Linked DNA regions of Homo sapiens. The protein of the gene in region 1 interacts with the protein of each later gene in a pairwise test. Each region holds a gene or a part of one and is shown in the gene's direction. Other genes may lie near its edges. The genes, in order: APOC4, APOL2, UBQLN1 and MAIP1.

Evidence for each region.
Region 2: the proteins of APOC4 (region 1) and APOL2 interact in binary tests that used the Homo sapiens proteins (3 or more experiments, as listed by UniProt).
Region 3: the proteins of APOC4 (region 1) and UBQLN1 interact in binary tests that used the Homo sapiens proteins (3 or more experiments, as listed by UniProt).
Region 4: the proteins of APOC4 (region 1) and MAIP1 interact in binary tests that used the Homo sapiens proteins (3 or more experiments, as listed by UniProt).

What each region holds. Positions count from the first base shown.
Region 1 is NC_000019.10:44,938,132-44,945,250, forward strand, and holds the start of APOC4 (apolipoprotein C-IV precursor), read left to right. Parts: upstream 1-4,105; 5' UTR 4,106-4,146; coding exon 4,147-4,222; intron 4,223-6,617; coding exon 6,618-6,759; intron 6,760-7,008; coding exon 7,009-7,119. UniProt on the Homo sapiens protein: May participate in lipoprotein metabolism.
Region 2 is NC_000022.11:36,236,518-36,244,014, reverse strand, and holds the start of APOL2 (apolipoprotein L2), read left to right. Parts: upstream 1-4,487; 5' UTR 4,488-4,574; exon of another isoform or gene 4,575-4,879; intron 4,880-7,166; exon of another isoform or gene 7,167-7,419; intron 7,420-7,497.
Region 3 is NC_000009.12:83,662,951-83,669,973, reverse strand, and holds part of UBQLN1 (ubiquilin-1), read left to right. Parts: intron 1-646; coding exon 647-789; intron 790-1,342; coding exon of another isoform or gene 1,343-1,444; exon of another isoform or gene 1,445-2,466; intron 2,467-3,540; coding exon 3,541-3,624; intron 3,625-4,828; coding exon 4,829-4,944; intron 4,945-5,930; coding exon 5,931-6,099; intron 6,100-7,023. UniProt on the Homo sapiens protein: Plays an important role in the regulation of different protein degradation mechanisms and pathways including ubiquitin-proteasome system (UPS), autophagy and endoplasmic reticulum-associated protein degradation (ERAD) pathway.
Region 4 is NC_000002.12:199,951,074-199,958,604, forward strand, and holds the start of MAIP1 (m-AAA protease-interacting protein 1, mitochondrial isoform 1 precursor), read left to right. Parts: upstream 1-4,508; 5' UTR 4,509-4,725; coding exon 4,726-5,175; intron 5,176-7,531. Other genes in the region: TYW5 (tRNA wybutosine-synthesizing protein 5), read right to left, coding at 4,320-4,397. UniProt on the Homo sapiens protein: Promotes sorting of SMDT1/EMRE in mitochondria by ensuring its maturation.

The sequences.
Region 1 (7,119 bases):
CAGGTGATCCTGCCACCAGGGATTACAGGCACGAGCCACCATGCTGGCCCTTGTTTTTTGTTGTTTTTTTTTTTTTTTTTTGAGACGGAGTCTCGCTTTGTCGCCCAGGCTGGAGTGCAGTGGCGGGATCTCGGCTCACTGCAAGCTCCGCCTCCCGGGTTCACGCCATTCTCCTGCCTCAGCCTCCCAAGTAGCTGGGACTACAGGCGCCCGCCACTATGACCGGCTAATTTTTTTGTATTTTTAGTAGAGACGGGGTTTCACCGTTTTAGCCGGGATGGTCTCGATCTCCTGACCTCGTGATCCGCCCGCCTCGGCCTCCCAAAGTGCTGGGATTACAGGCGTGAGCCACCGCGCCCGGCCTGTTTTTTTTTTTTTTTTTGAGACTGAGTCTCGCACTGTCGCCCAGGCTGGAGTGCAGTGGCGCGATCTCGGCTCACTGCAACCTCCACCTTCCAGGTTCAAGCAATTCTCCTGCCTCAGCCTCCTGAGTAGCTGAGATTACAGGTGCCCACCACGATGCCCAGCTAACTTTTTTTTTTTTTTTGGTATTTTTAGTAGAGACGGGGGTTTCACCATGTTGGTCAGGCTGGTCTCGAACTCCTGACCTCGTGATCCGCCCGCCTTGGCCTCCCAAAGTGATGGGATTACAGGCGTGAGCCACCGTGCCCAGCTTTTTTTTTTTTTTTTTAAGAGACGGGGTCTTACTATGTTGCCCAGGCTGGACTCTCAAACTCCTGGGCTCAAGGAATCCTTCTACCACAGCTTTCTGAGTAGCTGGGGCTACAAGCCCCTGCCACAGTACCTGGCTGTTTTTGTTTTTTTATAATTGTGGTAAAATATAAACAACATGGCCGGGTGTGGTGGCTCACGCCTGTAATCTCAACACTCTGGGAGGTTGAGGTGGGAGGATTACTTGAACCCAGGAGTTCAAGACCAGTCTGGGCAACTTGGCAAAACTGTGTTTCTACAAAAAATAAAAATATTAGCTGGGCAGCCAGGCGCAGTGGCTCATGCCTGCAATCCCAGCACTTTGGGAGGCTGAGGTGGATGGATCACCTGAGAGGTCAGGAGTTTGAGACCACCCTGGCCAACATGGTGAAAACCTGTCTCTTTAAAAATACAAAAAAATGAGCCAGCCATGGTGGCTCACGCCTGTAATCCCAGCACTTTGAGAGGCCAAGGCAGGTGGATCACCTGAGGTCAGGAGTTCAAGACCAACCTGGCCAACATTGTGAAACCCCGTCTCTACTAAAAATACAAAAAATTAGCTGGGCATGGTGGCAGGCGCTTATAATTCCAGCTACTAAGGAGGCTGAGGCCGGAGAATCGCTTGAACCCGGGAGGCGGAGGTTGCAGTGAGTCAAGATCGCACCATTGCACTCCAGCCTGGGCAACAAGAGCGAAACTATGTCTCAAATACATACATACATACAAAAAATTAGCCGGGTGTGGTTGCCGCACACCTGTAATCCCAGCTACGCGGGAGGCTGAAGCAGGAGAATCGCTGGAACCCGGGAGGCAGAGGTTGCAGTGAGCCAAGATCACACCATTGCACTCTATCCTGGGTGACGGAGTGAGACTCTGCCTCAAAAAAAAAAAAAAAAAAAAAAAAACTTAACCATTGCAGCCATTTTTAGGTGTACAGTTCAGTGGCATTAAGTACATTCACACTGTTGTGCAACCATCCCCACTATTTGCAGGATGTCTTCGTCATCCCAAACAGAAACTCTGGGTGTTTTCAATCTGCTGATGATTGCTACAGAGGAATTCCAGGGGACATCTGTTGCGCACCTACTGTGCTCACGCTGGGGCCTCTGGGATGGACAGGATTCTGCCAAGGCAGACATCTGGGTCAAGACAGTCCTGCACAGTTGTTCAGGTTGTGGCCAAGGTTGCGTTTGCAGATTTGCCATGTAAAAATACAGGATGCTCAGTTACATTTGAATTTCAGATTAATAGCAAAAAAAACTTTTTGGTATAATTCTGAAATATTTCATGGGACATATTTATACTAAAACGTCATGCACTGTTGATTTGAAATTCAAATGTAATTGGGCCTCCTCTATTTCGTCTGGCAAGCGTAGACAAAAGAATCCAGTCCAGGCCAGGCGCAGTGGCTCAAGCCTGTAATCCCAGCACTTTGGGAGGCCGAGGCGGGCGGATCACGAGGTCAGGAGATCGAGACCATCCTGGCTAACACGGTGAAACCCCGTCTCTACTAAAAATACAAAAAATTAGCTGGGCGTGGTGGCGGGTGCCTGTAGTCCCAGCTACTCGGGAGGCTGAGGCAGGAGAATGGCGTGAACCTGGGAGGCGGAGCTTGCAGTGAGCCGAGATCGCGCCACAGCACTCCAGCCTGGGCGACAGAGCCAGACTCTGTCTCAAAAAAAAAAAAAAGAATCCAGTCCATAGTCCCCTGAGCCATGTGCCCTGGGGTGCAGCTGGGTCCTTCAGGAGAAAAATGCTCTATTTCTGGCACTGGGACCGAGCCTGATGTGGGTTTTTTGTTGGTTTTTGTTGTTGTTATTGTTTTTGAGACAAGGTCTCGCTCCACCACACCCGGCTAATTTTTGTATTTTTAGTAGAGACGGGGTTTCACTACGTTGGCCAGGCTGGTCTTGAACTCCTGACCTCAAGTGAGCCGCCTGCCTCGGCCTCCCAAAGTGCTGGGATTACAGGTGGGAGCCACCGCCCTGGCCCTGGGCCTGATGTTGATGACCTCCTACTATGTGCACCTGCAGCTCTCCTGCATAGGCCTCAGCCGTCCTGCATGAGGACACTGGGAGGCAGGTGCTCCCTATCAACCCCGTGTTACAGTTGAACAAACTGAGCCCCAGAAAAGAAAACGTATTTGCCCAGGTCACACGGTGAAGAAGTGAGGGATTCGAAGCCCAGGTCCATCTGAAGCCAGAGTCACCCAGAGGAGAAAGAGTTGGAATTGAGAACTCAAGGAATGCTTGGAAGTGATCGGGCTCGAGCCCACCTAGGAAGAAACAGAGGCTGGAGACATGAGACTGTGTTGCTATTTCCTCTCATCAACCCTTGGGCCCTATTGAGGCCCTACCACAAGCCTGGCCCTGCAGCCCAGTGACTAGGAGAAATTAGACACAAGATAATAATAACAGCAATGATCTTTTTTTTTTTTCTGAGACGGAGTCTTGCTCTTTCGCCCAGGCTGGACTGCAGTGGCGCGATCTCGGCTCAATGCAAGCTCCACCTCCCAGGTTCACGCCATTCTCCTGCCTCAGCCTCCCGAGTAGCTAGGACTACAGGCGCCTGCCACCACGCCTGGCTAATTTTTCATATTTTTAGTAGAGATGGGGTTTCACCGTGTTAGCCAAGATGGTCTCAATCTCCTGACCTCGTGATCCGCCTGCCTCGGCCTCCCAAAGTGTTGGGGTTACAGGCATGAGCCACCGCGCCTGGCCAACAGCAATGATCTTTGAGCACCTATATTGCCAGTCTCCACGGTAAGAGCTTTCTTCATTTTTTGTTTTGTTTTGTTTCAAGACAGAGTCTTGCTCTGTCACCCAGGCTGGAGTGCAGTGGTGTGATCGCGGCTCACTGCAGCCTTCACTTCCCGGGTTCAAGCCATTCTCCTGCCTCAGCCTCCCAAGTAGCTGGGATTACAGGCACGCATCACTACTTCTGGCTAATTTTTGTATTTTTAGTAGGGACAGGGTTTTTCACCATGTTGGCCAGGTTGGTCTCAAACTCCTGGCCTCATATGATCTGCCCACCTCGGCCTCCCAAAGTGCTGGGATTACAGGCGTGAGCCACTGCGCCTTTCTTTGTATTTGTTCAAGTAATATACTGAAATATGTACTGTGCCTCCCACTTTATGGAGGAGGAAACTGAGGCCAGCAAATGAGGCTGTCATGGGAGGTGGAGACAGGATTTGAACCTGCCTCAGTGCAGGAGGCTCAAGAGCCTCTGTCTTCTCTCAGGGCACTGTGTGGGAGGGTGAGAAGGAGGGAGGCCCACAGAGGCATGACCTCTGATTGCCACTGTCACCTGGGCCCTGCTCTCTGAAGTCTCTGCCAAGCGGGGAGGTGGCCGGGGGAGGGCCCTGCTCTGTGCAGCCTCCCCTCCCCCGGCCCGCAGAGTTGAGCACAGAGGGACAGAGGCACGGAACCCCCAGAAATGTCCCTCCTCAGAAACAGGCTCCAGGCCCTGCCTGCCCTGTGCCTCTGCGTGCTGGTCCTGGCCTGCATTGGGGGTGAGAAGAAGTGGGTGGAGGGATGTGGGGCCCACACCTGGTGGGTGTGAGTGTGGCTGTGTGTCCTGTGGCTCTGTAGCCACGTGAGACATGAGTACGGAGTGTGTGCGTTTCATGGCGTGCGTATGCATGTGCGTGTCGGGGAGTGTGTGTGTCGGTGGCTGAGAGTGAAGTGTGAATGTCACATTGGTACAAACTGGGATCATCTGTGTGTGTGCACGTGCGTGCGTGGAAGTGGGAGTATGCAGTCGTGGTAAAAAAGTGCATGTCTGTGTGCATATGTGTATTTGTGTGCACCTGTCTCTCTGTGGGGTATGTGTGTGCAAAATATTTGAGTGTGTGGACATGTGTGAGGGGGTGAGTGTGTGCTGGTGTGTACGTCTGTGTTTTGCATATGCATTTTTTTTTTTTTTTTTGAGACGGAGTCTCACTCTGTCACCCAGGCTGGAGTGCAGTGGTAGCAGTGGTGCGATCTTGGCTCACTGCATCATCCGCCTACCCGTTTCAAGGGATTCTCCTGCCTCAGTCTTCAGAGTATTTGGGACTACAGACACACGCCACCATGCCTGGCTAATTTTTTTTTTTTGAGACGGAGTCTCGCTCTGTTACCCAGGCTGGAGTGCAGTGGCGTGATCTTGGCTCACTGCAACGTCCGCCTCCCGGGTTCACGCCATTCTCCTGCCTCAGCCTCCCGAGTAGCTGGGACTACAGGAGCCCACCACCACGCCTGGCTAATTTTTTGTATTTTTACTAGAGACGGGGTTTCGCCGTGTTAGCCAGGATGGTCTCCATATCCTGACCTCGTGATCCGCCTGCCTCGGCCTTCCAAAGTGCTAGGATTATAGGCGTGAGCCACTGCGCCTGGCCAATGCCTGGCTAATTTTTTTATATTTTTGGTAGAGACAGGGTTTTGCCATGTTGCCCAGGCTGGTCTTGAAATCCTGACCTCAGGTGATCCGCCCGCCTTGGCCTCCCAAAGTGCTGGGATTACAGGCATGAGCCACCACGCCCGGCCATGTACTTTATGTTAAAATGGGATCATATTCTAGATCAGCATTATCCAGTAGAAATTTAAATTTTTAATACAGGGCCAGGCACGGTGGCTCATGCCTGTAATCCCAGCACTTTCGGAGGCCGAGGCGGGTGGATCGCAAGGTCAGGAGATTTGAGATCATCCTGGCTAACAGATGGGTAAAAACCCATCTCTACTAAAAATACAAAAAATTAGCCATGCATGGTGGCATGCGCCTGTAGTCCCAGCTACTCGGGAGGCTGAGGCCGGAGAATCACTTGAACCCGGGAGGCAGAGGTTGCAGTGAGCCGAGATCGCGCCACTGCATTCCAACCTGGGTGACAGAGCGAGACTCCGTCTGAAAAAAAAAAAAAATTTAACACGTATGTAGACAATGTGCAAGGCACCATTCCATGTGCATCGTATGTAGTAACTCTTAATTCTCACGATAACCCTGAGGTAGATATTATTACCCCGTTCTACAAAAGGAGAAACAGTCCTGGGGAGACAGGATAAGTCACCGGCCAAGGCACACAGCTAGCTACATGTGGCCCCCGCGTGACGGCTGGTCTCTGTAGGCGAGGCTTTGTCCAGATGCGTGGGTAGAAGGTCTGGCCCGGAAAGAGGAACTGACAGCAAGGCTAAGCCAATGTCTGCCCCTGGGGGCAGAAAGTCACCTCCTGCTCTCCCTCCACTGTCCACAGAGGTAGCTCAGACAGGGTGGGGGTCACAGGAGAACGAAGGGAGAAGGGGGTAGTTCCTGGGCAGCAAAATCAGGTGGTGAAGGGAGGCATCAGAGGATGGCAATTAGAGAGGCCATTAGAGGGGAACCACAGGCAGACAGGGTGACAGGAGGGACTACTGACACAAGGTGAAGAGATGGCCCAGCCGGACGGGGTGGCTCACATCTGTAATCCCAGCATTTTGGGAGCCCGAGGTGGGTGGATCACTTGAGGTCAGGAGTTCGAGGCCCCAACATGGCAAAACCCCATCTCTTCTAAAAATACAAAAATTAGCCGGGCATGATGGCAGATGCCTGTAATCCCTGCTACTCGGGAGGCTGAGGCAGGAAAATTGCCTGAATCCAGGAGGTGGAGGTTGCAATGAGACGAGATCATGACACTGCACTCCACCCTGGGCAACAGAGCAAGAGACTGACTCTGTCTCATAAAAAAAAAGAAAAAAGAAAAAAAAAAAGAGATGGCTGATGGTTAAAGAGGGGTTAGCGGTCAGGGGACACATAAGGGTAAAGGCAGGAGGCAAGAGGACTGGCAGGGGGCTGCCCCTGGGCCACCGGGAGCGACACAGGATGAGCATGGAGGGAAAGGGAGAAGGGGATTCTAGGGTCCCAGCCTACCCAAGTTGCCCTCTGGTTCCACCTAGCATGCCAGCCAGAGGCCCAGGAAGGAACCCTGAGCCCCCCACCAAAGCTAAAGATGAGTCGCTGGAGCCTGGTGAGGGGCAGGATGAAGGAGCTGCTGGAGACAGTGGTGAACAGGACCAGAGACGGGTGGCAATGGTTCTGGTGAGGGTGTGCTGGGCTGGGTGGTGGGAGGGGACTCCTGGGTCTGAGGGAGGAGGGGCTGGGGCCTGGACCCCTGAGTCTCAGGGAGGAGGAAAGGGTGGGAGTGGGGCTGTGACCCCTAGGTCTGGGAGGAGTGGAGGGTTAGAGCTGAGAGCAGGAACTCCTAGGTCACAGAGAGGAGCGGATAAATGGGGCAGAGAACACCTGGGGAGAGCTGGGGCCTCCACTGTGATGTCCTCTCTCCTGTAGGAGCCCGAGCACCTTCCGGGGCTTCATGCAGACCTACTATGACGACCACCTGAGGGACCTGGGTCCGCTCACCAAGGCCTGGTTCCTCGAATCCAAAGACAGCCTCTTGAA
Region 2 (7,497 bases), on another chromosome or scaffold:
CTGAGCTCAGACCCAGCTAACCCTGCCCTCCACCTGATGGTATTTCTCTACTTATCCTGGTAGCTGAACACAAAAGACATAAACTCGTGGGAGCTTTATGGCCCTGCCAATCACCTGAGAAACTAGAATACTTACCCTGGTCAACCTAGGGCAAGCTTGTATCTCCCTTCTACTACCGCAGCTGGTGCTCTCTTGAAAGTGCCACTTCCTGGCTGGAGACCAACCAACTCAGGCCATTACAGCAACTCATGACAGAATAACCCTATTCCCAGGAAGGAGAAGACAAGAGCTAATACCACTGCCCGCAACATCCTGACTGACCAGAGGTCCTCAGTCTCTCCACATGACAGCTTCACTGCTAGCATAACCAGCATTGGAGAAAACAGCACACTAAAGAGAACTACAACCAATGACTCTCACGGAGTCTACTTCACTCGCCTGTCACCTACACCAGAGTAGGTGCTGGTATCCATGGCTAGGAGACCAGAAGATGATCACATCACAGGACTCTTTGCAGACATTCCCCAGCACCAACCCAAAGGCTGGTATAGCCCCAGTGGGTGGCTATACCCAGAAGAGCAATAACAATCACTGCAGTCTGGCTCTCAGGAAGCCCTATTCCTAGGAGAAGGAGAGTACCACATCAAGGAATAACCCGTGGGACAAAAGAACCTGAACAGAAGGAGTTGAGTTTCAGATCTTTCCACTGAAATAGTCTACCCAAATGAGAAGGAACCGGAAAAGTAATTCTGGTAATATGACAAAACATATTTCTATAACACCCCCCAAAGCTATTGCTAGCTCCCCAGCAATAGATACAAGCCAACAAAAAATCTCTGAATTGCCATATAAAGAATTTAGAAGGTTGATTATTAAGCTATTCAAGGAGATAGCAGAGGAAGGTGAAAACCAACTTAAAGAAATTTTAAAAAATACAGAATATGGATGAAAATTCTCCAGAGAAATAGATATCACAAAGAAAAAACAATCACAGCTTCTGGAAATGAAAGACACACTGAAAGAAATACAAAAGGCACTGGAAAGTTTCAACAATAGACTAGAACAAGTAGAAGAAAGAACTTCAGAGCTTGAAGACACAGCTTTCAAATTAACCCAATCAGACAAAGACAAAGAAAAAAGAATTTTAAAAAATGAGCAAAGCCTCCAAGAAATTTGAGATTATGTTAAATGGCCAAATTTAAGAATAATTGGTGTTGCTGAGGATGAAGAGAAATCTAAAAGTTTGGAAAACTTATTTGAGGGAATAATTGAGGAAAACTTCCTTGGCCTTGCTAGAGATCTAGATATCCAGATACAAGAAGTTCAAAGAACATCTGGGAAATTCATCACAAAATGATCCTCACCTAGGCACATGTCATCAGGGTATCTAAAGTCAAGAAGAAGGAAATAATCTTAAGAGCTGTGAGACAAAAGCATAAGGTAACCTGTAAAGGAAAATCTATGAGATTAACAGCTAATTTATCAGCAGAAACCATACAAGCCAGAAGGGACTGGAGTCCTGTTGTTAGCCTCCTTAAACAAAATAATTGTTAGTCAAGAATTTTGTATCCAGCAAAACCAAGCTTCATAAATGAAGGAGAGATAAAGTCTTTTTCAGACAAACAAATGCTGAAAGAATTCGCCACTACCAAGCCAGTACTACAAGAAATGCTAAACGGAGTTCTAAGTCTTGAAACAAAACCTCGAAATACACCAAAATAGAACCTCCTTACAGCATATTGTTTTATAAGCCTTAGGGCCTATAAAACAATAACACAATGAAAAAAATAAGGTATTTAGGCAACAACTTGCCTGATGAATAGAACAGCACTTTATATCTCAATACTAACATTGAATGAAAATGGGCTAAATGGTTCACTTAAAAGGTACAAGGGCTGGGTGCAGTGGCTCACATCTGTAATCCCAGCACCTTGGGAGGCTAAGGCAGGCAGATCACGAGGTCAGGAGATCGAGACCATCCTGGCTAACACAGTGAAACCCCATCTCTACTAAAATACAAAAAAAAAAAAAAAAAAAAATTAGCCAGGTGTGGTGGTGGGCGCCTGTAGTCCCAGCTACTCGGGAGGCTGAGGCAGGAGAATAGCATGAACCCAGGAGGTGGAGCTTGCAGCGAGCCAAGATCGCACCACTGCACTCCAGCTTGGGTGACAGAGAGAGACTCCATCTCAAAAAAAAAAAAAAAAAAAAAAAAAAAAGGTACATAATGGCAGAATGGTACCGGTATAAAAATAGGCACATAGATCAAGGGAACAGAATAGAGAACCCAGAAATAAAGCCAAATACTTTCAGCTAACTAGTCTTTGACAAAGCAAAGAAAAACGTATAGTGCGGAAAGGACACCCTATTCAACAAATGGTGCCAGGATAATTGGCAAGCCACATGTAGAAGAATGAAACAGTATCCTCATACAAAAATCAACTCAAGATGGATCAAAGACTTAAATCTAAAACCTGAAACCATAAAAATTCTAGAAGATAACATCGGAAAAACTCCTCCAGACATTGGCTTAGGCAAAGAATTCAGGACCAAGAACCCAAAAATAAATGCAACGAAAACAAAAATAAAGAGATGGGACCTAATTAAAGTAAAAAGCTTCTGCACAGCAAAATAAATAATCAGCAGAGAAAACAGACAACCCTCAAAGTGGGAGAAAATATTTGCAAACTGTGCATTTGACAAAGGACTAATATCCAGTTTCTACAAGGAACTCAAACAAATCAGCAAGAAAAAAAAAATAATCCCATCAAAAAGTGGGCAAAGGACATGAATAGACAATTCTCAAAAGAAGATATACAAAATGAAATGGCCAAAAAAATATGAAAATGTGCTCAACGTCACTAATTATCAGAGAAATGCAAATTAAAACTGCAATAAGTTGCCACCTTACTCCTGCAAGAATGGCCATAATTTAAAAATCAAAGAAGAATAGAAGGGTGCAGTGGCTCACACCTGTAATCCCAGCACTTTGGGAGGCCAAAGCAGGTGGATCACTTGAGGTCAGGAGTTCAAGACCAGCCTAGCTAAAATGGTGTGAATATGGTGACAAGGGAAAACTTTTACACTGGTGGTGGGAATGTAAACTAGTACAACCACTATGGAAAACAGTATGGCAACTCCTTAAAAAACTAAAAGTAGAATACCATTTGATCCAGTAATCCCACTACCGGGTATCTACCCAGAGGAGAAAAGTTATTATATAAAAAAGATACTCGCACATGCATGTTTATAGCTGCATAATTTGCAACCGAAAAAATATGGAACCAACCTAAATGCTCATCAGCCAACAAGTGGATGAAGAAAATGTGTGTGTATATACACACACACACACACACACACACACCCCTATATATGTATATGCCATGGAATATTACTCAGCTGTAAAAAGGAAGGGAATAATGGCATCCGTAACAATCTGGATGAAGTTGGACACCATTATTCTGAGTGAAGTAACTCAGGAATGGAAAACCAAATATTGTATGTTCTCATTTATTAGTAGGAGCTAAGCTATGAAGACACAAAGTCACAAGAAGGATACAATGGGCTGGGCGCCGTGGCTCACACCTGTAATCCCAGCACTTTGGGAGGCCAAGGCAGGTGGATCACTTGAGGTCAGGAGTTCAAGACCAGCCTGGCCAAGATGGTGAAACCCCATCTCTACTAAAATTACAAAAAATTAGCTGGGTGTAGTGGCAGGCACCTGTAATCCCAGCTACTCGGAAGCTGAGATGGGAGGATGGCTTGATTGTGCCACTTGAAGTAGCTATGATTGTGCCACTGCTCTCCAGCCTGGGCTACAGAGCAAGACTCTATATCAAAAACATAACAGAAAACATAACCTCAGAAGCATTACAATAAATATGCAATAAGCATCCACCCAGCATGTGTGGGGGACTGTGCTGATGCTGATGGCATGTGTGGGAGTAAGGCAGGCATCTGAGGAATGTGGGGGAACGGAAGGACGGGGAGTAATCTGGAGAGCCCCACGGTCAGTCAGTGGCAGGTCTTTCTTGAGCTCAGAAAGGTTAGGTAACTAGTTCAGATCAGACAGTAAAACAGGGGCAGAGCCTGGAATTGCACTGAGGCTTGAGTCTGACTTCTCTCCCCCACCTGCTGTGCCCTTAAACTGCAGAGATCGGGGCGGGGGTTGGGGGGCAAGCGGCTCAGATGGGTTCAAAAAACTCCCCAGGCTCAACTCTGGTTCTGACTGCCTGAGACATGGGCAGCTGACACAGCAGACCTTGAATCCTGAGGATGTGAGGCAGGTGGGTTGGATGAGAGGGACCCGGATGTCTGGTCTGCGGCTGCTCCTCTAAGTGCAGCAGCAAGGAGGCTGGGCCTGGACTGCAGGTGGTGCTGGGGAGCAGCGTGTTTACTGTGCTTGGTCATGAGCTGCTGGGAAGTTGTGACTTTCACTTTCCCTTTCGAATTCCAGGGTATATCTGGGAGGCCGGAGGACGTGTCTGGTTATTACACAGATGCACAGCTGGACGTGGGATCCACACAGCTCAGAACAGTTGGATCTTGCTCAGTCTCTGTCAGAGGAAGATCCCTTGGTAAGTTGGGGATAGTGTGATCTACCCCCATGTCCTTATTCTTGCAATAGCTCTATAAGGGAAGGATCATTCAGCTTTTGTAGATAAGCTCAGAGAGGTTAGGTAGCTGGTTCAGATCAGACAGGAAAGCAGTGGCAGAGCCGGGATTTGCACCCAGGCTTGAGTCTGATTGCTCCCTCCCTCCTGCTGGGCGGGTAAACTGTAGAGAGAGGTGGGGAAAACAGCTTAGATGGGTTCACAAAGCTCCCCGGGCTCAGCTCTGGTTCTGACACCCTCAGACACGGCCAGCTGACCCCAGAAGAAAGGTAGGTGTTGGGGGTGCCCATCTCTTTGGGAAATTTGAAGGAATCAAAGAAGGTGGAGGAGGGGAGGTGACCTGGAGCCCGGCATGTCCTTGTGGCCGGGCCACACCCAGGCTGGCCCCAGGGTGCTGCTGCTGAAGCCCAATGGGAACAACAGATTTCTTTTGAGACACAAGGAACTCAGAGGTTGTCTCACTCACCCTGAGTCTGAGCACCTACTTGTGCCAGGCCCTGTGGGGAAACTGAGGCCCTGGGAGGGGAATGACTTGCCAGGGTCCCGTGTCAGGAGGCTGAGCAGGCAGATCATAGGACTTCACGTCTCTGGCCCTCACCTCTGTCCCTCTGTTCAGACCTCTGAGCTGATAGAGAAGAAACAGGCTGTGCTGTGTCCCTAATGGGAAACATGGCTGAGACAGGGGAGTGAGAAGGTCGCATTGCAGAATGGTACCTGTGGCATGATGCCAGCTTTGCAATCATGAGATTCAAAAGCCACACTGTGGAATTGTGAGTATAACTACAGGAGTGAGAGCTTAGGTCTCTGTGTTTGTAGAAGCAGAATCAAACCTGGACACTGTTGGATTATTAAAATCACCCATTTTTGCTTCAATATCAGAGTCACAAGGGCAGATGTTGGCCTCCCCTCTGCCCTCCAAGAGCTGTGTGACTCTGGGCAAGTCACCTCCCCTCCCAGCCTAAGATTTTTCCCCTCTAAAAAACTTGATAGAGCTGCCAAAAGTCCATGAAATCAGGGGGGTAATTTCTGTGAAATATGAGTCATGGTCTTATTTGTTCTTCACCAAAAAGAGATGCCCATCAAGATAGAAAGAAAAATTAAATTCAATTTCTCAACTGAAAGTGAAACTGAAGCTGGGCCATGTCATCCAGAGGCTGGTTGCTTTTAGTTCAAGTAATGCCTCCTGCACCTGGGATTTCAGCCAGGCTGTGCCAGGGAGGGCGGAGGGCATCCAGGTCAGTCGTAGGGGGTGCAGCTGGGAACACAACAGTGTCCCCATTGAATGTTCAGAGTCTAAAGGGGAGACAGAGGCCCAAAGAGCCACATACAGGTAGAGCTCCCTCTGGAAAGCAGAGTGCTCAGGGAGCCTGGGGAGGGTTGGGGGCCGCCGCATGGACCAGGCAGCTTTGGGTGGGTCTCTGAGGACAGGTGACTTGCACATGGTGGGGACAGTGGGGGGGACATTCCAGGGCGAGGGAGCAGCTGAGTGAAGGCCTGAGGCTGGGGATGGGAGTGGGAGGAGTAGATGGGCTCCAGGAGGCACCGAAGCAGGGCGTCAGTGGGTGCCTGGACCTAAGGTGACTGTGGTGGCAGGGAGCGGTGAGGAAGGTGGGGTCCAGAGCATCAGAGGGCCTGTGTGCCCTGCTATGGGGTTTGAACTTGACCGTGGCTTTTCACTGAAGATTCCTCAGAAGGGTGCAGTGCCACGGCTGAGGCCTGTAATTCAGTGCTGTGGGAGGCAGAGGCGGGAGAATCACATGATGCTAGGAGCTCAAGACAGCTTGGGCAACACAGGAGATGCTGTCTCTCTGAAATGAAAAATTAACAAATTAGTCCTGCATGGTGCCGTGTGCCTGTAGTCCCAGCTACCTGGAAGGCTGAGGCAGAAGGATCACTTGAGCCCAGGGGCTCTAGGCTACAGCAAGCTGTGATAGCCCCAAAGCACTCCAGACTGGGTGACAGAGCAAGACAGTTTCTCAAAAATAAAATGAAAATGACGATTTCTCAGGAAATCATTTCGACTCCTCTTTCCCTGCCCAAGGAGGATGCCCCACAACCACTTGGAGGGAGATGCTTTGCTGAGAGTCCCTGTCCTCTGCATCTGGAGAGCTTGGCTCAGAGCTGAGGTGGGAGGGAGGGCTCCTCTTCCAGGTCGCTCAGTTGGACACCGGAATTGACCAGCCTGCAGGCTCACCCATGGAGTACACACTGTGTCCTAGTCAAGCCTGAGGGGCAGTATCCAGCCTCAACCCCCAGCAGAGGCTCCAGACAAAGGTGGGAGCCAGGCCAACAATGACCCAGGAGGATGGGATCCTGGATGCAGCTCCTCACAAGTATTGGGCAGGTCCGAGGCCCCAGCTCTGTCTGCCCTCCTGCTCCTCTTCTCCCTCCTGGTCCTCCTGGTTCTCATGGCTCATGAGATGGCGTTGAGACAGCTCCCCTGGCCTAGGGTGTCACAGAGTGAACAAAGCAGGAAGAAGGGGAAGGGAAGACCCCCTCCCGTCACCCCGTCCCTTACAGCAAGAAGTGTCCAGATGCCCCTCTGCATACTCCCCTGGTGAACTGCTGCCCAGGACTGGGTCCCCCTTTTAGTCTTGCTGCGTAGGGGCCCCAGAAGACAGATATCTGGATGCCTCGACCCTGAAACAGAGGTGGGAAGTGGAAAGAGGGAGGCGAGTGGCTTTTGAGGAGGGGGCTTTTGTATAAGAGCTGGAGGATGCCCGGGAACCACTGAGCTGTTAAAATAAAGTCTGCAAACAAAGACCAGCTGCTGGAAGTGGGTGTGCCGGGGAGTGCGCAGAGACACAAGGTGAGAAAAGAACAATGGTGATTTTGGAGCCGCCCCTAACTGGGATGGGCCTGAATCGGTATTATCATTATTACTTAT
Region 3 (7,023 bases), on another chromosome or scaffold:
ATTTTACAGATGGGGAACCTGAAGTATGAAGACGCTAGATAACTTGCCCAAGATCACATGGGTTAGATTAGATTTGAACCCACGTAATCAGGCTCCTGATACTGCTTGGAGTCACTGTGCTCTATGGTTTCAAATGTTAAATGTGCCTACCATTTTACTCAGTGAGTGGCAGTACACAGTGAAAATGGGTGGAGGCATTACATCTTTTGTTGCCTTGGGCATGAAGGCTTACTTCTTTCATAAGGGTGGGCAATATTAAGTGCCGAATATGATTCTAATTAATTCTTTGCAGTCTTGGAGGAAAAGTTGGCTCAGTCCTTTTCACTTTATGGAATTTTTCAGCAGTAATTTTGACCATACGTAATTTTTGCCTTAAGTTGACTTCAGAAGCTAGCTCTTCATTAGACAAGATTTTACTGTAAATGCAGAATGTTTAAACTCATCAGTCCTCTTTTCCTGGTATATGTTGGGCATGTACTTTTAGAGATGTTTTAGTTTTAAAGTTCTTTCGTAGTTCAGTTGATACATAATATGTATAATCATTTGTACTTGGTGAAATTAAACACAGTGCATATTATATTTTAAAGCTTTAACTTTTGTTTAAGTATTTTTCCTTAATATGTCTTTTTTAAAAACAAACTTTCAGCTAGTATGTTCAACACACCAGGAATGCAGAGCTTGTTGCAACAAATAACTGAAAACCCACAACTGATGCAAAACATGTTGTCTGCCCCCTACATGAGAAGCATGATGCAGTCACTAAGCCAGAATCCTGACCTTGCTGCACAGGTGAGTTTGTAATTGTATTGAAAAAGACTGTGCAGTGTGAATTAAAATAACCTAATCTTGTAATTGTGATTTTGGCACATTTGTGTTGTGTATGATATCTTAATACACTAGAAAAATAAGTAAACTGTGTCTCCAATTTTTTAGACCGTGTGTTTCTTTGCAGTAAATTAATACTTCATATGTAATTAAAACAACTTTATCTCTGCCATTCATTGACTAGAAAGAAGTGCAGGTTTAGTTTGTTTCTACATATGTTGAGTTAGGAGACAAGTACAGAGTTCTGGAATGCCCACTCTTTTGAAGATAAACTACTTAATGAAATGTAAATCTTGAAAGCAATTAAGAGCAATGTTAATACATTTGAAATACTTTTATTTAGTAGATCACTCAGATTATAATAGTCATGCTCAGAATGGCAGTTGTAAAATAGCATTTATTAAAGACGGGAATTTGTCAGAACAATGTTCTCCTTCTTTCAACTATTGATTCCCCTGCTGAAAATCGTATACAGGTCCCTTATTAATGTATTCCTTTTTCTAATTTGTTTCTAAAGAGACCACAGCTAAGAAAATTGGGGATCTTAATGCTGGCTGAACACTCAGGATCACTTGGGAAGCTTTATAGACAGTACCGATGGTTGGGGCCTCATCCTTAGAGATTTTGAGATAATTGCGTCCGATAACCCTTTCTCCCTCAAGTTGCCTAGGTACTATCTAGGTTCCATACCACAGGGCTTGAAAAACCACGGAGAATGTGAAATAAACCTTGATAATCTGTAGTTTATATTTGCTGTTCGTTAAAAATGGCTTCTGTAGTGTGTCAGGAATTTGGAAGACTTTATAGTTAATCTCATCCCTTAAATTTTAAAAGCTTTAAGTCAAATGAATGGTTTTTATTTTCTAAATTCTAAAACTATATTGATTCAGGTATCTTTGTGTATAATTCTCAGTAATAACTTATGCCCTCACCAAATTTGTGGAATTGGAAATAACAAATTTTAAGAAGAATTTTTGTGTCTGTGATTCTGTATATTGGAGGTACATTTTATGGAAGATTGATTTATGCATATGAAACTTATCAGACTGAGTTGTTAGTATTAAATGCTTCAATTTACCATAATAAGCCATTTTAAGTGTGTATTTGGCTAATACTGAATGTGCATCTTGCTTTTAAAATTTGACTTTAACAAGCACATGCGTAGCAATTTTGTAATAATCTTACTTTAGTAAAGTGACTTGAGCACTCACATACTATTTTTTTACTCTAAAACAAAATGTTGCTAGTACTAGATTGGCATGTCTTTTATTACAGATAATTTAGAAACTTTTACAATGTTCTTGTTATCTGCAGATTAAAATTTGTGGTTTTTCTATTCTTTTGATTTTTAAATATTTAAAAAGACTCTTGAGTGTAAAAACTTGTGGTATAAGCACTCAGGTAAGTTATAAGAAGTATCTAATAAGATGATTATCTGTGAAAGGATACGTTTAAGATGACATGCTTTTTTAAGATGAAATGAAGTGAATTCCAAAAGATATGTGTGATAACCTCGTTAATATGTTGATGATAAGTATTTGGAACCAATAAAGAAGCAGGTTTGTTGACCTTAAGCCTGTATGAGTTTACTTACTGTGAACTTACTGGTCACTTTGAAATAAATACTGTATGTTCCTGAAAGGTTGTCTGACATCTGCTTTTGTTATTGTATTGAAATTAACTAAAAGATCACTTTGCAAGAATTGGGGCGAATTTTCTCTACCAGCATTTACATTGCTCTTAAATACGGTTAACTTCTTGAGGGCAAGGATCATTTCCTCCCCAGACTTTGGATAGATAAATAGGCTATCAGTAAATCCTTGTTAGTTGACTTTTTACTCCGCCTGGGGAAAATGATATAAAATGTGTCTTTTGAAGCTACAAGAATTTATTAGCTCTGGTTATGCTCCTTGTGTATTTTAATCTTATTTTCAGGTATATGACATCATACTAATAATGATCCTGATTTTTAAATTCTTAACGTTTATTTGAAGTTTAGGAGATGCCACTTTTCTCATCTCTGGTAGTAGTGAGGTGAAATCCAGATGCTAATCTTGGTGTTCTCAAATGGATTTACATCTTTTAGGTCTTAAATCATTTTAATACTTTTCCCAGAGGACTGTTGGTGCTAGGCCTGACTGATTTTCACCTAGCAGCTCCATTTCTCTGGCAAGTTGGTTGCTGTTTTGCGGTGTTATTTTTTTGGACCTAATATTAGCTGTTTTGTAGTAGGCAGGTAGATGTAGTGGTCCTTTTCAGATCTAGATTTTCTCTGTGCCTGCCACTTGTGTGTTGAGGTTTCTAAGCAAGCCATGTTACATAGTTCATGTATTGATGTTTATGTTTATTCTGCCAGTGTAGTAGAAAATATATCTTCATGAATGCCAGTTACTCCCATTTTTCTTTCAATGGCATATATTCACGTTTGTTCAAGGAAAAGCCTAAGAAAATGATTGCTTTTATTTTTTAGGATATTGCATGTCATTATCATAACCACCATTCTCATTGAGAGAGAATATGCCTCATTTTTTTGTTTTTGTTCTTCTGGAGATCCCTCTTGTGGACAGTATCTTCCCTTTTCCTTTTTTTATTTATGTTCTACCTTCCTCCCTTTTAAGTGCCAGCTGAGGCACTTGGGGGAAGATAGAATAAAACAAGGTACATTACTTGTTTCAGATATTTCCAGTTAAAATTGTTTGAACACTTGCCCCATAGATGATGCTGAATAATCCCCTATTTGCTGGAAATCCTCAGCTTCAAGAACAAATGAGACAACAGCTCCCAACTTTCCTCCAACAAGTGAGTAAGACAAGATGTTAGCTATCTTGGGTAATGATTTGCTTGAAAAAATTTGATGATAAACATTTTTCCTTGCTCTTCTCTGGCTGATAGCAAAACATAGAATAGAGACCAATAATGCTGTCAATTCGTAGAGAATTCAGCTTGATCTTCACTGAGTCCCATTTCACTGCTGACCTTTTGCTTATGTTTCTTAAACATACATTCTGAGGAAAGAACATTTTGTTTTTGCTTTTGAGGACCTAGGATTTTGAATGCTTTGTTAATACCATAAACCATTTCCTTTCATTGTACTAACTTTGAAGTGCTTCCTTGTGTCATGTTACGCTTTATGGTTTAACTAATTTTGAGTAACAGGAAAGAGCTACCCTATTCTATTTTATAGGTTTTCTTCCAAATTAGTAGAAGGCTTTTTTTCCCCAAGGGGTAGATCTCATTTCCTCAAACTCGGGATTAGTAAGATTAAAATAGTCAGTGTTGTCATATAAGGAAGTAAGGAAGGTTATAGTATAAACGAGTACTTGAGATTGCCATGGTATTTTATTATTTAAAACGACAAAAGAGAAGTCAGTCTTGGTGTTTTGAAACTGGTAGTTCTAGGGCCTCATGTATTATGCAAATGACTCTCAGACCTGTAAACCATTTTCCAAGGTTGGTGTCCTTGATCTATTGTAATGATGTAAGCCTATCTTTGGTTAGTCAGGTGGTGTATATTTGGAAGTAGTAAAGCTAAACTCAGGATACATGTATTAACGTCAAATTTGGAACTGTTGTTTTAGAGTGTACCTTACTGGTAAAATTGTTATATTAGTAACAGATAACACTTGGTTAGGTGGAATATGTGGCTTTTTACCATATCCACGTCGTAAGAATTGTGCCTTTGGAGGTTGTGTCTTAGAAGTAATACTTTATCTTCTGTTGGAGAAGGGGAATAGTTGTGGCTTCCAAAGTAGCTCCTGATTTTCTTCCATTATGGAAATGGCTTTCATGATGGACTTAGGAGGAGGTCAAGTAATAATTTGCACACTAGGTTTGCTGTCAAAGAGGAGATACTTGCGTTTATTTTGGGAAAGAAATTATGGATTACCAGTGTCCAGGAGTAAGGTTTTAGATTTTCTCCAGAAGCATAACAGAGAAAAGATTTAAAAATTTACGTTCACTGATTTTAATTCCTTTGTAACCACTAGTTTTCTTTCTTCCTTAGATGCAGAATCCTGATACACTATCAGCAATGTCAAACCCTAGAGCAATGCAGGCCTTGTTACAGATTCAGCAGGGTTTACAGACATTAGCAACGGAAGCCCCGGGCCTCATCCCAGGGTAGGCTTATTTGGGGAAGATAATGAAAGTGTATAATGGTTACTTTCTCTGAGAATTTCAGATTTAGTATTATTCTGCCTGCCTTTTTTTTTTTTTTTTTTTTTTTGGTGGGATACAGGGTCTCGCCCTTCGCCTAGGCTATGAGTGTGGGGGCGCAGTTGTGGCTCACTGCAGCCTCGACCTCTCGGGCTCAAGGGATTCTCTCACCTCAGCCTCCCAAGTAGCTGGGACTACAGGTGTGCACCACCACACCTAGCTAATTTATATATATAATTTGTTGTTGTTACTGTTTTTAGAGATGGAGCTTTGCCATGTTATCCAGGCTGGTCTCAAACTTCTGGGCTCAAGAGATTTGGCCTCCCAAAGTGGGATCAGAGACATGAGCCATAGCACCTGGTTCTCCCCCACCGTTTTTATTTATTTATTTACTTATTTATTTATTAAGAGATCGGTTTTTGCTCTTTTACCCTGGCTGAACTTGAACTTCTAAGCTCAGGTGATCCTCCCACCTCAGCCTCCCCAGTAGTTGGGACACAGTGCCTGGCTATGATTGTTTTTAAGTCAGGGTTTTCAAAGTTAAAAATGATTATTATTATTTTTTAAATTCCTTTTAGAGATAGTCTCACTCCATCGAGCAGACTGGAGTGCAGTGGCGCGATCTCAGCTCACTTCAGCCTCTACCTCCTGGGCTAAAGCAATCCTCTTACCTCAGCCTGCCAAGTAACTGATACTACAGGTGTGCACCAGCACACCCAGCTAATTTTGTTTTTATTTTTTGTAGAGATGAAGTCTCAACAATGTTGCCTAAGCTGATCTCAAATTCCTGGGCTGCTGGGATCATCGGTCTCCCAGAATGAGCCACTGCACCAGGCCAAAAGGGCTTATTTTAAGAAGATGGCTTAGCTTATATTAAAATGTAACTGATTTACGGACTGGCTTCTGGTTTTGCAGGACCTTAGGATATTTCCTATTTGTGCTTTCTGTAGGTTTACTCCTGGCTTGGGGGCATTAGGAAGCACTGGAGGCTCTTCGGGAACTAATGGATCTAACGCCACACCTAGTGAAAACACAAGTCCCACAGCAGGAACCACTGAACCTGGACATCAGCAGTTTATTCAGCAGATGCTGCAGGCTCTTGCTGGAGTAAATCCTCAGGTATCAGTTCTTTTCCATTCAAGTTTTGTATTCCTTAATGTTGGAAATTTAGAAATTTCCAAAAAGAAGGAAAAAGGGAGAAAAAAGGAAAGCAGTAGTTCTTAGGTGTTTAGATTAATGAAAAATACAGTCTTAAGGATATTGAGTAAGAAAACAGGCATTACAAAAATTGTTGACTTTGGTGCTGAGACACTAAAGGAAACGTTGTTACGGTTGTAGAGAAGACATGCTACAACCTAAAGTCTTATTTTTTAGAAATTGCCTTTAAAAATGCATTTTTTTTGTTCCTATTTGAAAATCATTTGAAATAGATTTTGCTTTAAAAAAGTTCTTAGGGAGGAATGGAAACTTGATTATCCCAAGTACCTCCAGGGCAGCTGTATTCTAGTCTGTCTTTTGACTGGAAAAAAGTCCTAACTACCTTAACTCCACCCATGACACCACCTCCTGCGGTAGCTTGTGTTACATATATATATATCTCGTAAATATGGCTAAAGAATATGGACCCCCTAATAATGTGGTTGCATCTACAAACATACATTGGTTTTACTAATAATGTGCCATTATATAAAGATGATCGCCAGTTTAAACCTGTTTTATTAGGTTGTCCCCAAACTTCTTAATGTCTCAAGGTCTGTTAGGTGCTTTCTGTTTTCTTTTCTGGGTTTCTTTTTTCTTTCCCTTTCTCCTTTCCCCTTTCCTTTTCCTCCTTCCTCTTCCCCTTTCCCTTTTCCCTTTCCTCTTCCCCTTCCCCCTTTCCCCTTTTTCCTCTTTCCCCTCTTTGCCTTTCCCTTTTTTTTTTTTCTTTCCCTTTCCCTTTTGACAAAGTGCCCAGGCTGGATGCAATCACAGCTCACTGCGACCTGCACCTCCTGGGCTGCAGCAATCCTCCCACCTTAGCCTCTGGAGTAGCTGGGATTACAG
Region 4 (7,531 bases), on another chromosome or scaffold:
CATGTTTATTTCAATGTTTAAGATTAGAAATGTTTTGGGTCTTTATTTACAAGTTTGGTGATATTTTTGTGACCAGAAATATGCCACTGGAACTTAACTCTTGTTTGTATCAATTAGCCTGTGGTAAAACTGGTTTCATTATAGGTCATTTCCCTTAAAGTTGCAGCTTCCAAGAACCTACTGAGAACGTTAAATGAGGACTTACTGTACTAACTAGAATTCAGTTTGTTTTCAGTTTTTTGTGTCTTAGATTGAGGACATATAATTAAAGTATTGTGTTTAAAAAAAGTGACTTGGGTAACTTCTCCCTCTCCCACTTAAACAGATTCATGTGTTACTTTTTATATTCTATATTAGGGTCTTTTAAAAAATAATTTTTCATCCTTGTTGATTTTATTATTATGACTTTAGAATGTAAAACATCCATGTGATTCCCCAAATCAAAACTATACAAAAGTCACCCCATCCACATTCTTCCATTTCATACTCACACATCCCCTATGCATAACTGATCTCATTAATTTTTGGCTTATTCCTTTCTTTTTTGCAAAGTGATCAAAAACATATATTTCATTATCTCTTCCCCTTGTTTTTTACATAAATAGTAGCTTACCATATATTTTCTTCTGTTGTGTGCTTTTTAAAAAATTCATAAATATATGGCTGGGTGCAGTGGCTCACGCTTGTAATCCCAGCACTTTGGGAGGCCGAGGCAGGCGGATCACAAAGTCAGGAGATCGAGACCATCCTGGCTAACACAGTGAAACCCCATCTCTACTAAAAATACAAAAAAATTAGCCGGGTGTGGTGGCGGGCACCTGTAGTCCCAGCTACTCAGGAGGCTGAGGCAGGAGAATGGCATGAACCCGGGAGACGGAGCTTGCAGTGAGCTGAGATCGTGCCACTGCACTCCAGCCTGGGTGACAGAGCAAGACTCCGTCTCAAAAAAAAAAAAAAATCATAAATATATCCTAGAAATCACCACTTATCAGTTCAGATATCGCCTTTATTCTTTTTTACATCTTAGTATACCTCAGTGTAAATGGGCCATAATTTATTCAATTATTCTCGCCTGCATAAGCATTTAGGTTATTTCCAATAATTTGCAAGTACAGTAACACTACGTAAATATTTACACATTTTTGGAGGTATATCTCCAGAATAAATTCCTAAATGAGGAATTACTGGGTCATAAAGTGAACATAGTTAGATATGCCAACAGAGTTGTACCATTTGGTATAAAATTTGAGTATGCCAGTTTCTTCAGGGCATCACCAAGAGAGTATTACCAGAGCTTTTTAAATTTTTGCCAATATGATATATAAGAAGTTGTATCTCAGTGTAGCTTTATTTCTCTTATGAGTAAACTTAAACTTCCTAGTTTAAAGGCCATTTTAATGTTTTTTCCCCCCTCAATCGTTTGCTCATTTTTCTACCAGATTTTCAGCCTTTTACCCCCTTTTGAAAGTTCTTTCCATACAAGGGCTTTTACTGTCCTTTATATGAGATAAATGTTGCAAATATTTTCTCCCACTTTGTATTTGTCTTTCAAATTTGCTTACAGTGTTTCTGGCATACAAATGTTTCATGCAGTCAAATTTTAATCTAATATTACACCTGAATTTTGAGTCATAGCTAGAAATGCCTTCCATAGACCTAGATTATAGGGGAATTTACCCATATTTTCTACTAGCACTTGTGTAGCTTCATTTTGTTTTGTATTGCCGAGTGTACTCACAACTTGTGTAGTTTCATTTCTTTACATTTTTCTGATCCACTTGGAGTTTATTCTTGTGTACAGTGTGAGATATAAACCGAATTTTATCATTTTCTAAGTGAAACTCCTCTGTATAATACCATAATGGTGGATTCATTTCATTATAAATTTGCCCAAACCCATAGAATGTACAATATCAATAGTATACCCTAATATAAACTATGAATTTTGGGTGAAAATGATGTGCCAGGCTGGGCGCGGTGGCTCACGCCTGTAATCCCAGCACTTTGGGAAGCTGAGATGGGCGGATCACCTGAGGTCAGGAGTTTGAGACCAGCCTGGCCAACATGGCGAAACTCCGCCTCTACTAAAAAATACAAAAATTAGCCGGACGTCGGGGCGGGTGCCTGTAGTCCTGGCTACTCAGGAGGCTGAGGCAGGAGAATCGCTTGAACCCTGAAGGCAGAGGTTAACGTGAGCCGAGACTGTGCCACTGTACTCCAGCCTGGGCGATAAGAGCAAAACTCCATTTCAAAAAAAAAGAAAAAGAAAATGATGTGCCAATGTAGGTTTATCAATTGTAACAAATATACCACTCTAATGAGGGGATGTTGATCATGGAGGAGGCTATCCATGTGTCAGGGCAGAAAGGACATGAGAAATCTCTGTACCTTTGGTCAATTGTGCTGTGAACCTATAAAGCCTCGAAAAAACAGTCTATTTTTTAAAAAGTCATTTTGTGCCTTATTGATTTTTGAAATGTCATGCTTATTATACACTAAATTTCCATAGGAATAGGTATTTCTGCACTTTCTATTCTATTCCCTTGGTCTATCTATTCATGTACCTGTACAATATACAGTGTTAATTATGGAGTTATTAGAAAATGTTTAACAAAAAACTCATAGCACTATGCCCCCTCATACTTTTTAGTGTTTCCAGATAGAAAGGTCTTTTTTTCCAATTTTGTTATTAATTTCTAGTTTTACTGCCCATGGCCAGAGAAAGTTGTTTGTAATTTTCGACTTTTTAAAATGTAATGATGCTTTGTGCTGTATGTCTTGTCTGAAGAGATTAAATTACAAAATACCTTTTGCTATGACTCTTACAAAGCACTTCCACATACCCTAATCTTCACAACACTGCCCTTTAGGCAACTTACGTCTAGCACATTCTGAGATAGGGGGTGTCTAAGGACAGGGAGAGCAAGAACAACCCATCTAGTACAAGTCTCCAAACTAATAAAGGCTTGAATCCTCTCCCGTAGGTTGCTATCAAAAGAAAAACTTCATTCCTCCCGCATCCCCCCAACCCCGCCTTTTTTTTTTTTAAGCTAGGGTCTCACCCTCTCGCCCATGCTGGAGCAGTGGCAGGATCATGGATCACTGCAGCCTCGACCTCCCGGGCTCAAGCAGATCCTCCGACCTCAGCCTCCAGAGTAGCTGGGAATACAGGCGTGCGCCACCACGCCCGGCTAATTTTTGTATTTTTTGTACAGACGGGGATTCACCATATTGGCCAGGCTGGTCTTGAACTCCTGACCTCAAGTGATCCACCGACCTGGGCCTCCCAAAATGTTAGGATTACTGGCATGAACCACGGCGCCCAGCCCATCCGACTTTTGTAACACTCAGAATTGTAGTTTTGTTTGTTTGTTTGAGACCGAGTTTAGCTCTTGTTGCCCAGGCTGGAGTGCAGTGGCGCGATCTCGGCTCACTGCAACCTCCGCCTCCCGGGTTCAAGCGATTCTCCTGCCTCAGCCTCCCGAGTAGCTGGGATTACAGGTATGGGCCACCACCATGCCCGGCTAATTTTGTATTTTTAGTAGAGATGGGATTTCTACTGGCTGGTCTTGAACTCCTGACCTCCGGTGATCCGTCCGCCTCGGCCTCGCAAAGTGCTGGGATTACAGGCGTGAGCCACCGCGCCCGGCCCCAGAACTGTAATTCTATGACCACCCTTATAAATGTAAATATCAGGTAAGAAAATTGCTGGGTATTTTTCCTACCATAAACTGACTTACTGTAATCCTGTGGATTTTTCCTTTTAATACCTTGTTTTTCTTAGGTCTGGACTCCCTTGAAAAGCACTGCAAGTAAAAGCACTTTTTGTTTCCCTAATATTTCTCTATGAGTTTTCTTTTAAAGACCTAAGGTTCTAACTACAGGTATAAAAGACTCCAATGTCGGAACTAGAACCTAAGTAAGTTAGAATTCAAGACGAGTAGGAGTTTTCCGGGGGAATCCCATTGCTTTCCTTTTTGGCTCAGTGGAGTGAAAAGTTGTGCCTTCAAATCCATTAATTCGGAGCAGACTGACAGATGCGGAGTAAAGAGTTTAGGCAAAATACCTCTCGCACTCAGCTCTCCGCCATCATCTTGCTCCCCAGAAACATGGGACTTTCTCCGGAAATTTCAATAGAGGAGCCAGTCGGCGTCCCCCGTGCACCTTTCCCTTGGTCTAAGGGCCAACCAGTGATCTGCTGCCGTCCTGCGCCTCTTTCCCACACCCTGGGTCTCTAAAAACCAGTTCCCAGCTGTCCGAAAGGTAAAGACGTGTCTCTCGCTGGTTTCTCGAGGTTCTGCCCCGCGCGAGGGCCTCACCTGTGGGTAGAGGTGCTGCATGAACTGCTCCCGAGAAACGCCCTCCAGCCGGGGTACCGGGAGGTGCTGCCCGGCCATGGTTGCTCACGCCTGCCCTCTTCCAGGTCTTCGGAACTTCGGCTCTAAAGCGTTCCTCAGCGCCATCCGCCCGGAAACACGAGCGACAGAGAAAAGGTCCGCGAGGCCGGCAGACTCCAGAGTGGCTGGGTCCGAGCGCGGGGCGGGTTGCCGAAGGGCCTCGGCCTGGGCTGCGTGCTGGAGAGCGGGGACGGGGCCGACTCACCAGAGGCTGCAGCAACAGGTCCACTTTGCTCTCCAGTCTCTTTCTCCGACACCGCTGAGGCGGTTTCCCACCGACTTCCTTTCCATACAGCACCGGCAGGCACCGGTGTGAAGGGTCATAAAAATGGCGCTGGCCGCTCGTTTGCTACCCCAGTTCCTGCACTCTCGGTCGCTGCCCTGCGGGGCCGTCCGACTCCGGACTCCTGCTGTGGCCGAGGTGAGGCTGCCGTCGGCCACACTTTGCTACTTCTGCCGCTGTCGCCTCGGCTTGGGAGCGGCGTTATTTCCACGAAGCGCTAGGGCCTTGGCAGCCTCGGCGCTACCTGCCCAGGGCTCCCGGTGGCCAGTGCTCAGCAGCCCGGGACTCCCCGCAGCCTTCGCTTCTTTCCCTGCCTGCCCTCAGCGCAGCTACAGCACGGAGGAGAAGCCCCAGCAGCACCAGAAAACCAAGATGATCGTCCTGGGATTCTCCAACCCCATCAACTGGGTTAGGACTCGAATTAAGGCCTTCCTTATCTGGGCCTATTTCGACAAAGAGTTCAGCATCACAGAGTTCTCCGAGGGAGCGAAGCAGGTTTGTTTATTTCCCTGATTGACCTATCCGTCTCTAATGAGTTCAACTATTGCTCGCAGAAGTGCTTAGCAGTGAGTTTTCTTCACTGGGATACAAGTGATCAAACGTGATTAGTGGCCCAGACATAGAGCCTTCCAGCCATTGCTTGACTTAAAGTAAGCTTCTGGGCCGGGAATGGTGGTACACGCCTGTAGTCTCAGCTACTTGGGAGGCTGAAGGGGAGGATCGCTTGAACCCAGGAGTTGGACGTTGTAGTGAGCTGTGATCGTGCCATTGCACTCCAGCCTGGGATACAGAGCCAGGCCCTGTCTCAGAAAGAAAAAGCTATATGGCTCATCTTGTCTGAACATAATTTTCAAATTTACAAAGTGGGCAAGACAATGCCTGGCACATAGTAGGCACTCCATGAATGTTTGCTGAATACATTAATAAATGGGTAAGATTGAAGAATAATTGAGATAACATTTCCAAAGTGCTGTAATGTCACCTTGGGTAGAAGAGCAGAACTTCCTGCCAGCTATTAGACAGAGCCGACCAATACACCACCCCATACTCCGTAAAGATTAAACTGGAGATGAGCAATTTTACCCTTTCAAAGGATTTGCTGAGACTGCCTGGTGGCTAAGTGCACAGCACCCTGCACACAGAAAATATTTAGCCTTTAGAGATTCTTATCCCTGACTTTGTTAGTTACGTACCTGTTTCTGAATGGCTGATTATACCTTGCCTTACCCTTGTGACATATGGTCACTTGGGTCCTGAGATTATTTGTAGATTTTGTGGGTACATGCTTTTTTTTTTTTTTTTTGGACTCCTTTACAGATTGTATCGTTCCCAAACATTGCAGAACTGCTGATAACAATAGAAGTCGGCCAGGCATGGCGGCTCACGCCTGTAATCCCAGTACTTTGGGAGGCCGAGGCAGGTGGATCACAAGGTCAGGAGTTCGAGACCAGCCTGGCCAATATGGTGAAACAGTGTCTCTTCTAAAAATACAAAAATTAGGCGTGGCGAGCCCCTGTAGTCCCACCTACTCTGGAGGCTGAGGCAGGAGAATTGCATGAACCCGGGAGGTGGAGGTTGCAGTGAACCAAGATTGCGCCACTGCACTCCAGCCTGGGTGACAGAGCGAGACTCCGTCTCAAAAAACAAAAACAAACAAAAAAACCACAATAGAAGTCAGAAAGTTTATTTCCCGCTTCATACCTCCATATGCCTTAAAACCATGCTATTGGTGTAATCATTTTACAGTATTGGTTGTATACTGGTATTGATATTTTACTCCAAATTTATTTCAGATTCTTTCCATAATCATGGCCATTTGTATTTATAAGACCAATCAGTTGTAAATCAAATGTTTTCAACTTTGTTTAATAAGTGTCAGTATTAACTCCTGCTGCCTGCTTCTCTGAGTCAACTCTTGACTACTATATATATTTATATAAAAAAAGTCAAAGAACAAACTTGATTAAGATGCTTAACTCAGCATTATAATTGATAAACCTCTGCTCTTGTCAGTTCTCAAAGTCTTTTGTCCATGCAGTGGTAAGTTGTATTGATCCTACTGTTCTGTACAATGCCCACTGATGATATATGAGCTTGTCCACCTCATAACACATATGATGGTACCAGTTCATTTATGTTTCAGTAAGGAATGGAAATCATCTCCCCACCATGGGCAGGCATCAGGCCTCAGTACTTGTTTCCTCTGAACACACAGAGGAGCATGCAGCATTTTTGGGGTCACTCCAGTCCTAGTGGTCCTCCAGCTGTTAGCTATTTTCACCTCCTTCCTTGCTATTAAGCAGTATTTCCACCCCATTCATCAGCCAGCCTGTAAGCATTGTTGCTTATATAAAGCAAACAACCTGAATTTCAGTATCAAGGTGTCGGAGGGGTTGTTTTCTCCTGAGGCCTCTCTCAGCTTACAGATGGCCGTCTTCTTGCTGTGTCCTTGCATGGTCCTCCCTGTGCATGCGTGCTCCTGGTGGCTCTTACTCCACATTTGCTCCTCTTATAAGGATGCCAGTCAGATTGGATTTTGGCCCACCCTGATGGTCTCATTTAACTTAATCATCTCTTTAAGGCTTTATCTCCAAATATAGTCACATTTCAAGGTTCTGGGGGTTAGAGCTTCAGCATAAATTTTCGGGGAAGGAGAGCACAATTCATCCTATAACAGTTAGGCAGTATTCTCTGACATGCCATATCTGACATGCCTGTGCATCCTCTGGCAGCCTAGATTTCAGCTTAGATGTTTCTTCCTTTAGGAAGCCCTCTCTGATCCTCCCAGATTGGGTTAGAAGGCTCTTCTGTATGCTCCCAAGTCATCCTGTTCTTATCCCTGTCAAAATTC